3 separate regions of the Homo sapiens genome follow, and all the other regions are reported to be linked to region 3. Evidence: microRNA targets listed by miRTarBase, many of them from high-throughput screens and not tested one by one. Region 3 holds a microRNA gene; each other region holds the end of a gene's coding sequence.
The links. Region 3 holds the annotated microRNA hsa-miR-141-5p (CAUCUUCCAGUACAGUGUUGGA, at 3,826-3,847, opposite strand). A microRNA usually pairs through its seed, bases 2 to 8, with sites in the 3' UTR of a target mRNA and lowers its output. Matches are read on the target gene's strand: a 7mer-m8 pairs with bases 2 to 8, a 7mer-A1 pairs with bases 2 to 7 and ends in A, and an 8mer does both.

Region 1 (4,285 bases), not on the chromosome of region 3:
GGGGCCACCAGAGCCCCCTTCCCCCTTTAGTGCCTGCTGCCTTACCCCTGCAGGGAGCCTCTCCTCCTGCAGCCAGTGCAGATGCAGACGTGCCGACCTCAGGAGTGGCACCAGACGGGATCCCAGAGCGGCCCAAGGAGCCGAGCAGCCTGCTGGGAGGAGTGCAGAGGGCCCTCCAGGAAGAACTGTGGGGTGGGGAGCACAGGGACCCGAGATGGGGGGCGCATTGATGGCATTCCTCTTCTCCACATCTGCTCGTTCTTGCCGAGGGTGCAGTGGTGGCGTGGAAGCCCTGTCACCCCACCCCAGGCCACCCTCTCCCAGAGGACGCCATCTCCCTTACTGTTGCTGGGAGCCTCGCCCTTTGTCCCAACTGGGTAGAGCCCCCAGGTGCTGTTTGCTCAGGAGGCTGCTGTGGGGGTGCCTTCCTCAGCCTCTGGCCCTCTTGGCTCAGATTCAATCAAATGTTGCTTCCCTCTCCTGTCTTTCCCACTGGAGCCGCCCAAGCTTGTAGGTGGGTGGTGTGCATAGGCCACGTGTGCCCCACATATGCAGGGGGTGCCCCACACAGCTAGAGCGGCCAGGAGAGCGCCTCCTAACCACCAGCCGTTCCTGATCTCAGGAGCCTTGAAGGGCTGGGCTCTTGCCTTCCTGGAGTAAATATTGGCACAGATTTCATTTGAGAGAACTCAGCCCCCTGGTCTAAGCTGGACTTACCTCTGTGGATTCTGAAATTAAAGAAGTGAGTTGCTAAGGAAGGCCCTGACTCCTATAGAAGGGAGGTCCATGTGGGCCCACGCTGGGGCGGGGCTGGTTGTGCCACCAGCACGCTGCCTCGTCTCCCAGACATCCTCGAGAACATTCAGGAGTGTGCCAGGAAGGGTGGGGCAATTCCCACAGGACTCCTGGGGCACACTCTGAGTCCCCTGGGGCTGCCTCACAGAGGAACCCTGCCTGGGCAGCTTCAACAGCAGCACATATTGTCTCTGTCCTGGAGGCCAGAAGTCTACAATCCAGGTGTCAGGTTCAGTTCCTGCTTTGGGCTGGGAGGGAGGATCGGTCCCGGACCTCTCCCCTTGACCTGTAGATGGCTGTCTTCCTGTTCAGATGGTGTTTTCTACACAGCTGTCTCCAGATTTCCCCTTCATATCAGGGCAGCAGTTGTATGGGGTTATGACCCACCCTAATGACTTCATTTTAACCTGATTACCTCTCTAAACACCCCCTCTCCAAGTGAGGTCACATTTGGAGGTACTGGAGGTTAGGCCTTCACCATACACATTTGGGGAGGGGCACAGTTCAGCCTGTAACACACCAAACGGGCTGGGCCAGTCTTCCTGGTTTTGTCTTGGGAAAAGACATGACCAGGTATCACTAGCCCACTTCTGTCCTGGTTACCGGAATGTGCCTGCTCCCAGCCCGCTCAGCTGGCGCTTGGCAATGCGTTGGAACCAGCCTGCCTGTCATTCCCTTGCATCATCTTCCCAAGAGGCAGAATGCAACCTGTGTGCCCCCAAATCCCTTATTTGACCTGAGGTGGTTTCAGGACCTGTATGTGCACCTGTTGACTGGCAGGGCCAGCCTGGTGTGGACTGGCAGGGCCAGCCTGGTGTGGACTGGCACACTTGGCCCTGTCCTCAGGTCCCTGAGGAGCCTGGGACACCAGCACTGTGGCCTGGGGCAATGCTGGCTGCCCACCATGACTACAGGAGCAGTGCCTTGTGGCTGCAGCGCCCAGTGTGTCCCTCAAGTCAGGGTCACTGGGGACACACTCGGGGCCTAAGTGCCCTGCAGCTGAGCTTGGGAGCTGAAGCCCTTGCTCTTTGCCACCCTGTAGAAGCAGCAGGGCAAGGACACCTGTCAGAGGGGAATGCCCGCAACAGACTGAACATCACAAAGGGATGGGAAGATGCTTTCAGGACTAGAGTGAGCCCCGAGGTGACTGTCTGGAAACAGATCCTAAGACCATACAAGTAGGATGTTTGTTGAAATACGGAGGCTGTTCGCTCACAGCCGTGCTTGCACAGAATCAGGAAGGGAAAGTTTCTAGGTTGCTCCTGCCTGAGGAGCTCTCCTTCTAATAAGCAGGGAGCAGTGCCGGGCACGTTTCAGAGCCACGGCAAGGGGTGGGACACAGTTTCAGAGGGGGGTTGAGAAGCGAAACTGCCCCTGCCCTGACTCTGGCTGTGAGGAGAGGACTCTTGCCCACCCCTGCTGCAGCTGGTGCAGTCCCATCGTGCCTGCCTGTCCTCCCATTCTCCTTTCCCTTCTAAGCAGGGGTCACTGGGCTGTCGACTCAATGGGAGGGGGGGTCACCTTACACTTCTGTGTGGCACATTAAGGTGGTTTTGCTTTGCTGGCTTCCGAAACAGCCACCACGCAAACCCTAGTTGACAGGCACGACTGAACAAATGAGCATGGTGGCTGTAAGTGACTGTCACAGTTAGGCAGCCTTCAACCAGCAGAGCTAGGAAGAGAGCTCGAGCCCTCACCAGTGCCGCCAGCACTCGGCGCATCCTCACCCTGGGCACAGATGCCCCCTCCCAGCCTTTGCCTGCTGGGACAGACCAGGGTATTCAGGACTGAGCCTGGTCTAGGTGGTCCAGACCCAGTTGGACCATATAATAAGTTTAAAGTTGTTTTAAGAATGTGGATTCTAAGTAATAAGTGGTAAGAAGTTCCATGGTCTGCAGCTGCGTTCCTCCTGCAGAAGCAGTTCCCTAGGTCTAGGTCTCCAGGACCTGTCCACAGTCACTGAAACGCCTTCTAGAATTGATCTAGTGGAAAATCTAGATGCAGTTTAGGTCTTTGGCACTGTGCCCATCTCCTTTAAGAACTGTGCAGTGTGGCTTGGAAGAGGAAATGTGGTCCCTTTGATGGGAGAAACTGAAGGACCTTTTTGAACTCAAAGGAGCTCCAGGGTTTGGAATTGGGGGCAGAGAAGGCTCCAGGCTGCTCATTCCATCCTGGGTGAGCCGAACGGGTCCTGGCTGATCTGAGTGCGACCTTCCCAGTCTGCCAGCCAGAGTCCCCCAGCAGGCAGGAACATGTGAAGGTTCCGCTTCAAAATATGAATGAATGGGCTCCTCGTGCCCCTATTATTTTCTGGCCACCCCCAGGGGTCCTGATGGAAGGGAGGCTGGCCTGCGGGGTGCAAGAACCACGATTCACTGCTCCCCGCTGAAGGTGCTTGGTCAAGAGCAGCAGGCATGCTGTTAACCTTTGTGCGGGTTTGTGTTTTGGATGTGGCTCCTATGCACAACCTATGGATTTTATCTCATAAACCATCTTGACAGATTTTGCTCGTCAACTGGGAGCCCTTAATCCATTTAAATGTAATTGACTGACTGATTTATTGAGGCTTTAACAGACTTTCTTACTTTGTGCTTTTTGTTTGTCCCACCTCTTCCGAGGGGGCTTCTCTTCCCTGCCTTATTTTGTATTAACACTGTTGTGGGTTAAAAAAAAAATCCATTTTTTCCTCTGCTGGCCTCAAAATGTAAAGAACTAAAAGGAGAAACACCCAAATTCACAATCATATTTGGGAGGTTTTAGCATATCTTTCTCTGAAAATGATGGAACAAATTGGGAGGGATGTAGAAGATTCGAACAAACTCCTTAACAAAATTGGCCTGATTGAGGCCCGTATAGGACAGTACACCATGGGGCCGGGTGCGGTGGCTCACACATGTAATCCCAGCACTTTGGGAGGCCGAGGCGGATGGATCACTTGAGGCCAGGAGTTCCAGACCAGCCTGGCCAACACAGTGAAACTCTGTCTCTACAAAAAATACAAAAATTAGCTGGGCATGGTAGCATGCACCTGTAATCCCAGCTACTTGGGAGGCTGAGACACGAGAATCGCTTGAACCCGGGAGGCAGAGGTTGCAGTGAGCTGAGATCATGCAACTGCACTGCAGCCTGTGTAAAGAGTGAAACTCCATCTCAAACAAGCAAACAAAAACTGTGTGCCATGGGACTGCTTAATATACATTCTCTTCAAGCATACACAGGACATTTACAAAAATTGACCATATATTAAGCCCTACAGTAAGTGTAAATAAATTTAAAATATTGAAATTATATAGGGTATGTTCTCTGACAATACTTTTACCTTTTAAGCTAGAATTAAATAATAACCAGAAATTCTTATATATTCAAAAATGAGAATTATGCTGCTAAAATAACCCATGTGTCAATGAAGAAATCATAATGGAAATTAAAAATGTTTCCCACCATGAAGGAAGTACCACAGGCCAGGTGTGGTGGCTCACGGCTGTTGTCC
Region 2 (4,285 bases), not on the chromosome of region 3:
TCTCAGAGGGGTGTCCCGGTGCTGGGCTTGACCTGGGTCCTCCAGGCGCCCCCCAGCCCCTCCCTCTTTGCCCAGAGCTCCTGCATCAGCTTCTCATACTGGAAGGAGACAGTGTCCATCCTGTTGAACCCGGACCGGCAGTCACCCTCTGCTCTCGTTAGCTACATTGAGGAGCCCTACATGGACATAGACAGGGACTTCACTGAGGAGTGACCTTGGGCCAGGCCTCGGGAGGCTGCTGGGCCAGTGTGGGTGAGCGTGGGTACGATGCCACACGCCCTGCCCTGTTCCCGTTCCTCCCTGCTGCTCTCTGCCTGCCCCAGGTCTTTGGGTACAGGCTTGGTGGGAGGGAAGTCCTAGAAGCCCTTGGTCCCCCTGGGTCTGAGGGCCCTAGGTCATGGAGAGCCTCAGTCCCCATAATGAGGACAGGGTACCATGCCCACCTTTCCTTCAGAACCCTGGGGCCCAGGGCCACCCAGAGGTAAGAGGACATTTAGCATTAGCTCTGTGTGAGCTCCTGCCGGTTTCTTGGCTGTCAGTCAGTCCCAGAGTGGGGAGGAAGATATGGGTGACCCCCACCCCCCATCTGTGAGCCAAGCCTCCCTTGTCCCTGGCCTTTGGACCCAGGCAAAGGCTTCTGAGCCCTGGGCAGGGGTGGTGGGTACCAGAGAATGCTGCCTTCCCCCAAGCCTGCCCCTCTGCCTCATTTTCCTGTAGCTCCTCTGGTTCTGTTTGCTCATTGGCCGCTGTGTTCATCCAAGGGGGTTCTCCCAGAAGTGAGGGGCCTTTCCCTCCATCCCTTGGGGCACGGGGCAGCTGTGCCTGCCCTGCCTCTGCCTGAGGCAGCCGCTCCTGCCTGAGCCTGGACATGGGGCCCTTCCTTGTGTTGCCAATTTATTAACAGCAAATAAACCAATTAAATGGAGACTATTAAATAACTTTATTTTAAAAATGACTGCTGTGGACCTGGCTTTTGTCCCTAGGACTGTGTTTTTCCTCCTGAACCCCAAAGAAAAGAATGAGAAGGAAACTGGCTGTGGTGTTTATTCAGGGCCCAGGGAAGGCTGAAGGCAGCAGGGGGCGATGCAGAGATGGCAGGATCGGGGCAGGTGGCCTCAGCCAGATGTGCAACAGCAGACATTCCTCTTTAGAGCCCAGGGGGTCAGGCCGTCACTCCTTGTGCTGAGGAGAAAGGGATAGCTGAGTGAGCAGTACTACCTGTCAGCCCCCACAGTCCCCCTGCACAGAGAGCAATGCCCCTGCCACTCCTCACCTTGGGGCCCAGGGCGTCCCGGGTCCGTGCCCGCAGCTTGTTGGCCTGGGTTTCCGCCATGTCTGCCCGCTCCTCCGCATCATCCAGCTCGTGCTGGGCCTTGCGATACTTGGCCAGGTTGGTGTTGGCCTGCTGCTCCTGGGGGCACACACAGGGCCTTGGTTCCGCTTGGGTGACTGAGATGCTTATTCTGGTCCCTGCCCCAGTCCAAGAAGGGAGCTAGCTCCTCCTGGTTCTCAACTTTGTTCCTATTGCCACTGTCCATCCTCACCAATACCACAGCGGGAATAAGGAAGTTGGGACGCACCAACTTCATGTGCCTTTTTGTGCCTGCCCCACCCCTCAGAGGCAGCCCCAGCCTTGGCCAGGGGAAAGCACATGGGGTCTGTTCCATGAGAAGGAGCTAGGTCTGATCTCCCCAGAGATGTTAGAAGCTTCTCTCTTCCCTCTGGGTCACTGACCTTGGAGGGTGGAGCTGCTGCTGATGCCTCACCTGGCCACAGACCCTGGGGCAGAGCTGGGGTGCCCGGTCCAGGTGTCCAGGCCCCAGCGCACTCACCGCCTCCTCAAACTGGCGCTTGTAGCTCTTGACCTTGCTCTGCAGCTTGTCCACCAGGTCCTGCATGCGAGCCAGGTTCTTCCTGTCCTCCTCGGCCTGGGCGGGCAAGGGGGACTCAGGGCTTGCTTGGGCTGGGCCAGCTCCAGGGCCACTCCCCAGGGAGACCCTGTCGCCCACCTGGTATGCGAGCTCCTTGACACGGCGCTCATGCTTGCGCACGCCCTTAAGGGCCTCGGCGTGCTTCTTCTGCTCTGCATCAAGCTCAGCCTCCAGCTCCCGTACCTGCAGGCAGGGGGACAGCCTGATGCCAAGCCCACCCCTGGGTCACCCACCCTGCCTGCGCCAAGGACTAGAGGGGCTGCACACACCTTGGCCTCCAGCTTCTGCACCTGCTTCTTCCCGCCACGGAGGGCGGCCTGTTCTGCCTCCTCAAGGCGGGCCTGGAGCTCGCGCACCGTCTGCTCCAGCGTCTTCTTCATCCGTTCCAGGTGTGCACTTGTGTCCTGCTCCTTCTTCAGCTCCTCGGCCATCATGGCCGCCTGTTGGGGAGGAGGAGCTGGTCAGGTGCCCAGCCTCAGGGAAGTCCCTCTGCAATTCTGTCCCAGGCTCCCCACAGCCCTTGCCCAGCCTCACATCAGTGATGGCCTTTTTGGCCTTCTCCTCAGCCTCCCGCCTCTCCTGTGCAGCCTCCTCCACCTCCCCGCTCAGCTGGGCCAAGTCCGCCTCCAGCTTCTTCTTCTGGTTTAGGAGGCCTGTGTTCTGAGGGGAAGAGGAGTCTCAGAGCCAGCCAGCCAGCAGGCCTGCACCTGCTCTGTCCCCAGGGACTCCTGTCCCCACCTGCGAATGCAGAAGGTTGAGGCGCTCGGTGGCCTCCAAAAGCTCCTGCTCTGCCAGTCGCCGGCTGCGCTCGCCCTGCTCCAGGGCAGCCCGCAGCTCCTCCAGCTCCGCAGCCAGCAGCGAGGCCCGGCGCTCCAGAGCCTGCGCCTGCTCGTGGAGCTCAGCTGCCAGCCGCTGCTCCTCGTCCCGCCCTGCCTGCTCCTCCTTGAGCTGTGCCTGCATCAGCCGCGTGGCAGCCTGGGCCTCTGTGGCCTGACGGGTGGCATGGCCCAGCTGCAGCTCCAGGTCGTTGAGGTCACCCTCCATCTTCTTCTTGAGCCGCAGCGCCTCATTGCGGGCCCGTGTCTCTGCATCCAGGGAGGCCTGCAGGGACTCCACAGCTCGCTGGTGGTTGCGCCTATGGGAGGAGGGTGGCATGAAAGGGGGTCTCGTAAGGGCATACCTGTCCTTACAAATGCCCAAGGACCGTTGGAAACGAACCCATTTTGAGAACAAATGAGTCACCCCTCCCCGATTTAAAGTCTCTTGTGACTGCCTGTGGCCCATCAGAGCAAGTTCATGGACAAGAGTGAGGCCCAGGCAGACAGAGGTGGACTGACTGGCTCCACCCCCACTGTGTGACTTTGGGCAAGTCCTTTAGCATCTCCGAGGTTCACAGCTAGAATGGAGACAGCAACCCGGACCTCAAAGTCCCATGGGAGGGACAGACTAGAGAGCAGAGTACACACTGCTTCCCTCCCCTTCTGCTCTCGGGAGGTGGGGACGGGAGAAGGATGGACACACCTCAGGTTAGCGCACTCCTCGTCTTTCTCTGCCAGCTTCCGGTCCACTTCTGCTTTGACCTGGGAGAGCTCCAGCTGGATCCGCAGCGTCTTGGTCTCCTCCAGCTCCAGGGCCCCCTGTGGATACAGAGCAGGCAGGGTAGGGTGGGGGGGGGGGATGGCCAGTGGAGCAGCAGGTCAGTGTCCACCCACCCCTGCAGCCAGCCCCTGACCTCTGCCTCCTCCAGTGCAGCCTGGATCTCACTCTTCTCGCCTTCCAGCGCCTTCTTGGTTTTCTCCAGTTCCTGGATGCTCTTCCCACTGAGACTCACCTGGTCTGTGAGGTCGCTGATCTCCTCTGCAGTGGACAGGGTGCTGAGAGGCCACCCCCATGGCTTGTACTCCCACCCAGGTCACTCCACTCACCCCTGATTCCAGGGTGGCCCCACCAGGGCACCCCCATAACTCAAAGTTGCTCCGACCCCAGGGCAGCACCCTGGCCCTGGCGTGTGGCAGGTCCTACCCTGCAGGTTCTTGTTCTCCCGCTTGAGCGTCTCCAGGGCTTCAAGTGCCTCCTCGTGGCCGTGCCGCAGCCGGAAGAGCTCGGTGCCCAGGCCACGGGACTCCCTCTGTGCCGCCTCCAGCTCCCGCTGCATCTCCTCCTCCTGCCGCCGCCGTTCCTCCAGTGCCCGTTCCAAGTGCCGCTGCTTCTTGTCCAGCGCAGCAGCTGCTGAGGTCGCCCGCTCCAGCTCCAGGGTTACATCCTCTGACTCTGTCTGTAGCCGCAGCTTGGCCTTCTCCAACGATGAGCACTTGGCGTTGGCAGCCTCCACGCCCTCCTCTGCCTCCTGCAGC
Region 3 (5,813 bases):
TGATGTGGCCATCACAGAGCTGAGCTTTAGCCGAGAGTACACAGCTGCTGTAGAAGCCAAACAAGTGGGTGAGTCGCAAGAGCCGTGGGGTGAGGGCTTCTGAGATGCAGGAGGAGGAAAGACTCCATGGGTGGGGCTCCTGACCCAGGACAGGGTCTCCCTGACTCTCTCCCACCACAGCCCAGCAGGAGGCCCAGCGGGCCCAATTCTTGGTAGAAAAAGCAAAGCAGGAACAGCGGCAGAAAATTGTGCAGGCCGAGGGTGAGGCCGAGGCTGCCAAGATGATATCCTTCTGCTGGAGAGATCTCAGCCCAGCCCCTAGGGCACCTGAGTTCCCCATTCTCCTTCATGGGCAGGCTGATGAGACTAAGGCGAATGCGACTCCGTGCTCTCTGGCCCTTGGCTCCTTGTTGGGGGTGGGGACTACAGATGAGATCTGAAATCTTAGTGGTAGTACCTGAGCCATGACTCCCCACTGTAAGGCCAGATCAATAGCATTGGTGGCCTTGCCTTCATTTCTGGTGCTGCCCCTAGTTCCTGGCAGCAGCCTGCAGGGAGGCCCACAGGTGGGGTCCACGGTAGGGCTGGGCACAAGCCACCTGAGCGCAACCTTGGATCTGACAGCCCAGAGGAGGACTGGAGCAAGGGAGTGTGGTAAGGACAGGGCCAGGGATTGAGACCTGCCCTTGCGTGTACCTTAACCCTCCTCACCTTGGAGAAGCACTGAGCAAGAACCCTGGCTACATCAAACTTCGCAAGATTCGAGCAGCCCAGAATATCTCCAAGACGGTGAGTGTGTCAGCCCAGCGTCTCTGATGGGGCTGCCTTGAGAAAGTGCTTTCAGTTAAGGCACATTGAGGTGAGGGAATTCGAACCTTGCTTGTTCCGGTTTCTACTCAGATTGGCTTCTCTGGCCGGCGCGGTGGCTCACGCATGTAATCCCCGCACTTTGGGAGGCCAAGGTGGGTGGATCACCTGAGGTCAGGAGTTCGAGACCAGCCTGGCCAACATGGTGAAACCCCATCTCTACTAAAAATACAAAAGATAATGAGCCCGCTGTGGTGGCGTTTAGCTATATTCCCAGCTACGCAGGAGGCTGAGGCAGGAGAATCACTTGAACCCAGGAGGCGGAAGTTGCAGTGAGCTGAGATCATGCCACTGCACTCCAGCCTGAGCAACAGAGCAAGACTCCGTCTCAAAAATAAATAAATAAAAAATTGGCTTCTCCGATACTCCTCCTGTCAAGAATGATTCCTCTGGGTTCCCTGACCTTTTGTTCTAATCATAGCTGCTGCTCAGCGCTCTGGATCCCTAAGTGCGAGCAGAAACCATGTGTTACTCATTGCTGCACCCCTGCCCTAATCTGCATGTGTTCCATGTTAAGTAGCTGCTGAATTGCAGGGGTCGGAATTGAGGTCTTTGCTTAATGCAAGCATCTGTCTTATTTCCTGCCCTGTAGATCGCCACATCACAGAATCGTATCTATCTCACAGCTGACAACCTTGTGCTGAACCTACAGGATGAAAGTTTCACCAGGTGAGAGATGTGGCCACACTGTGGGGTATCACCAAGAACGTGGGACCTGAGTCTGGTTGTTTGGGCTCTGGAGCCTGCTACAGCTATTCATATGGCTCAGAGACATTGAACCAAAATTAGAAAAGGGGGTGGTTGACAGTTTCTATCTTGCATCTCATAGGATTGATTTTATGAGATCAAATAGGATTATTCACATAAAAAGCACTTTAATTATAAAGTTTTCATCTAACCAAAAAGTGATGAAAGATGATACTCAGTTTTCTTACTCAAGAGCCCTCAAACTCCTCTGGTGAATGGAGGGATGTTAGGAAAGGAGATGAGAAATAGCAGTGGCCATGAGAACATGCCTCCTCCTTTCATGAGCCTGAGATTCCTGGCTGTCAACCCTGTTTATCTTTTCTCTTGGGAGCAAAGGAGGGTTCAAAGCTGAGTGGGGCCTGAAGCTGTCAATTAACATGTGCATTTCTCTTCTCTGTTTCTTGTTCATCTGGCGATCTGGCACCACAGGGGAAGGTAAGCTGTTGTTGCTTCTGTGGGGTCCTGCAGGCCACCTTCTCCAGTACCCGCCTCCTACCCTACCCCCTTTCCCACCTCCCCGAAGACAAACCCTCAATCAGGGTAGGAGGGTCGTAGAGGGAATGGCCTAGAGTGTCCTGCCTCTCACATTTATGTCCCCTAATAATGTCATTATCTATCTTTTTTTTCCTACAGTGACAGCCTCATCAAGGGTAAGAAATGAGCCTAGTCACCAAGAACTCCACCCCCAGAGGAAGTGGATCTGCTTCTCCAGTTTTTGAGGAGCCAGCCAGGGGTCCAGCACAGCCCTACCCCGCCCCAGTATCATGCGATGGTCCCCCACACCGGTTCCCTGAACCCCTCTTGGATTAAGGAAGACTGAAGACTAGCCCCTTTTCTGGGGAATTACTTTCCTCCTCCCTGTGTTAACTGGGGCTGTTGGGGACAGTGCGTGATTTCTCAGTGATTTCCTACAGTGTTGTTCCCTCCCTCAAGGCTGGGAGGAGATAAACACCAACCCAGGAATTCTCAATAAATTTTTATTACTTAACCTGAAGTCAAGGCTTCACGTGTTCATGAACTGGGTAACTGGCAGCAAGCATGCGCACGTTCACATGTGCGCTCCTGGGTCTGTCTTTGTGTGTGCCAGCAGGGGGCGCAAAAGAATCTGGCTGGGGCGGCTAAGGGGAAGCAAGGCCTGGGCTCCGAAACAGGACCCAAGCTGGGAAGGCTGGCCCTGAGTTCTCGAGGCCCAGCTGTGCTCTTCACACACCCTCCATTTCTCCCACATCACCCATTTTTTTAAGGCTGGACAGCCATGGCTTTGCTGAGCCAGATTAAAAATCTGATGACCCCAACAGGAGCTGCTTCCTTGGCAGCAGGGTTCCTTGTGGCTGTGGGGAGCCTGCCTGTGCCTGTTGAGGCACTTCTGTGCCCAGAAGCCCAGTGGATCGCGTGGCCTGCTGTAGGCCCCCCAGACTCCATTTCTCAGTCACCAGGCGTGAGGAGCTGCTAGCTAACAGGCCTCCCCTGGGGAGGTGGGCTTTTCATGCCCGCAGTTCCGGGGCCAACAGAACAGGTGCCTGTCTGTTCAGTCCACAGATAAGCTGACACTTATCTTCCCAAGACAGGCCTTCCCGAATCTCAGGCACCAGAGAAACAGAGCCACCGTTTATACCTGAATCTCCCACTACTGCCCATTTCCCATCCCTGCGGGGAGACAAGGAAGATGTGGAACTCAGACAAAACATAGGTGCAAAGTATGTCCAGGAACTGCCAAATGCAGATAGGGCAGCAGGTGGATCTGAACAGAGGGACTGGGTTAATCTGCTTCGATTTTTAAGATATTTTTCTCTGCTTGGGGTTGAGTATCATGAAAGACAAAGCAGACGTCGCAGCCCCAATCCTGAGTTGCTGGGAGGCTAAGATGAGATAAACAACTAGACAAAAGACAGGTCAAGTGACTTGGATCAGTCTTCCTCATGTTCCCCTTCACACTTTATTTATTTCATGCTCCCAAGGCGGGAAGACAATGGAGGTGCCTAGGGAACCAGTGTTTCCACATCTTGCTGCAGCTGTAAAGGCAGCCATTTTGTCTCCTTCCCATTGTTCCCCTTTGCCTAGTGATTCGTCCCCCATCCAGAGGGGTGAAGGTCAGAGGTTGTTGGTCAGTAGTCCTCCATGGTCTTCAGGGCTCCCTGAAGGTTACTGCCGAGAGAACCCACCCGGGAGCCATCTTTACCAGACAGTGTTAGGAGCTTCACAATTAGACCATCCAACACTGTACTGGAAGATGGACCCAGGGCCGGCCGACAGAGAACTACGGTGCGCGCTCACCAGTTGCTACAGGGGACCCTGGCCACAGGCCAGGTGAGGTCTCTTGAGAGGGGGCGAGCCAACCCCAAGCTCAAGGTCGACTGTGGGTTCTGGATCCACCAGGTGACAAATCGCACTGGGTGGGAGGAGGGGCTGGGGCCCATTGTGTCCCTTAGTGGCAGCCAGCCAACAAGAACCACCCCTTGTGCAACGCTCTCAGCTCAAGACGAGGGGCTTCCGGGGTGCGTGGGAAGTGGGGAGGGGGCTGCAGCCAGCTAAGGGCTGGGGACCTGAGGCGATGGATGTTGCTGACACAGGGACAGGGGCCTCCATCATTACCCGGCAGTATTAGAGACTCCCAACCGCACCCAAACACTGCTGGGTAAGACGAGGGCCCCCGCCCAGCCCGCCCACCTTGGGTCAGGCAGCTTCAGGCCCAGGATCCCTGCGGAAAAGCTGCAGATCCCTGGCTCCCATCCCCCCACCACCCGAGTCCCTGGGGACACTTCCTGGTGAGCCCTGCTGCCCGCCACCAGCCACACCCTGGGTCGCTGATCACGAGGCCCAGGTTGCAGTCCAAGCAGGCCCTCCGAAGCCCCTCGACCGTCGGCCCGCCGCCTCTGAGCCACCTTCCCCTACCCCCGGCAGCCTTTCCCGACCCGCGACACACACCGATTTACCCACCCTCATCCCCCCTCTGCAGTCCCAAGCTCAGCCCAGGACCTCTCCCCTGGTGGCCTTTACCTGTCACCGGGCCCACCTGCCCCCAGAGAGTGGGTGCTGGGGAGACGAAGGGGCTTTAAGGCCCCAGATTCCACGGCCTAGAGCCCGCCCTGGCCTCCGCTCTTCCTCCTTCCTTCTCCGCCTGCCGGGCAGCCAGCGCAGGCTCCTTACCTGGGCCCCGCCTGCCACCCTGCGCACAGGTGTGTCCTCCTGCCATAGGCTGCCCCCCCACTGCCTTAACCCCTTCCCTCCCAGCGCCAGCCACGGGCACCTCCTCTAAGGCTTGGCCACTCCTCTAGGCCTCCCACCCTCTCCCAGGGGCCTCTTTTCTCCAACCTGCCTAGTCTCACCCCTGTCTCCAGAGGTACAAAAAGCGGGGGCTGTCCTTGGGTCCCCTCCCCACAGCAGATGCTGCCCCCAGGACTAGCCCATTCCTCTGTGGCCTCAGACCCTGCCCACAGCGGAGCTGCAGGCCAGAGAGATCCCTGAGGTCAGCGAGGGGTCAGCTGGGCAGGAGTTGGGCTGTGCCGCCCCGCAGTGCCCAGCCTGTGCTGGGATCCCCTGAGGGAAAGGGGAGGGAGAAGGCCCCGCCAGGCCTGTGAAGGGCAGGCGGGTCCCAGCAAGGTGTCGCTAGTGTGAAGTTACCCACCGCTACCCAGAGACCCCAGCTGGCCCGGAGCATCAGCCTTGCCCCTCGATTGAGGCCTGCAGAGGGAACGATCGCGCTCCACTCTCCGGACCGAGCTGCTCCCGGACCCACCTCACAGCACAGCCCTCAGTGGAGTCCAAGTCCCACCCCAAGGGCAGGTAGCCCAAGGGCGGTTAGAGGAGGTGGGACTTGCCTTTGTGCAGCTGCGGCTTGTATAGAAAGGGCGTTGCTGGGAGAGGGGACCTGGGCCCGACAGGTGATTGCCCCACCCGTGCCCTGGAGGGCCACAGCCCCAGGGAGCTATTGGGTTGCTCAATCCCTCGCTGTTCTCTCTCCCAGGCTTTGTTTGCTTCCTTCTTAATACCCGCCTGCAATTATTTGATGCTTGTGATCGGTTTGTGAATCTGTCTCCCTGACCAGCCTCCTAAGTTCCAGGAGGTCGGGGGACTGTGAATGCCTGTGACGCCGGGGGCTCTGTAAGGATTTGCTGAGTAATGCACGCCCAGCCTCTGGGCTTTGGGACCTGTGCTGTCTCAGCCTTTCCAGGAGTGGGCGCCAGCACTTCCTGAGGGAT

Region 1: the mRNA of KRABD3 is a reported target of hsa-miR-141-5p. The part of its 3' UTR that is shown has no 7-base or 8-base seed match.
Region 2: the mRNA of TRPC4AP is a reported target of hsa-miR-141-5p. Seed matches in the 3' UTR shown: 8mer at 558-565.

Annotation. Positions count from the first base shown.
Region 1 is chr7:149,733,818-149,738,102 of GRCh38, forward strand. KRABD3 (KRAB domain containing 3) reads left to right here. Exons shown (of 17, transcript NM_001290187.2): 17 at 1-758. The coding sequence ends at 230. Among named protein-coding and RNA genes, the nearest start is that of KRABD3, 21 kb to the left of the region's middle. RefSeq lists an enhancer at 1,244-2,160.
Region 2 is chr20:34,999,074-35,003,358 of GRCh38, reverse strand. TRPC4AP (transient receptor potential cation channel subfamily C member 4 associated protein) reads left to right here. Exons shown (of 19, transcript NM_015638.3): 19 at 76-955. The coding sequence ends at 213. MYH7B (myosin heavy chain 7B) reads right to left here. Exons shown (of 45, transcript NM_020884.7): 36 at 3,954-4,285; 37 at 3,664-3,788; 38 at 3,453-3,568; 39 at 2,670-3,066; 40 at 2,466-2,591; 41 at 2,201-2,371; 42 at 2,010-2,114; 43 at 1,833-1,928; 44 at 1,274-1,411; 45 at 922-1,182. The coding sequence ends at 1,171. Among named protein-coding and RNA genes, the nearest start is that of MIR499B, 11 kb to the right of the region's middle. RefSeq lists an enhancer at 4,098-4,285.
Region 3 is chr12:6,962,147-6,967,959 of GRCh38, reverse strand. It overlaps MIR141 (microRNA 141), which reads right to left and starts at 3,863; the gene lies at 3,769-3,863. PHB2 (prohibitin 2) reads left to right here. Exons shown (of 10, transcript NM_001144831.2): 5 at 1-68; 6 at 181-284; 7 at 712-789; 8 at 1,460-1,536; 9 at 2,044-2,049; 10 at 2,248-2,633. The coding sequence ends at 2,275. MIR200CHG (MIR200C and MIR141 host gene) reads right to left here and starts at 4,715. Exons shown (of 2, transcript NR_135032.1): 1 at 4,612-4,715; 2 at 3,513-3,759. It overlaps MIR200C (microRNA 200c), which reads right to left and starts at 4,261; the gene lies at 4,194-4,261. It also overlaps LOC105369634 and SCARNA12. RefSeq lists enhancers at 397-897, 2,969-3,018, 4,801-5,602, 5,603-5,813.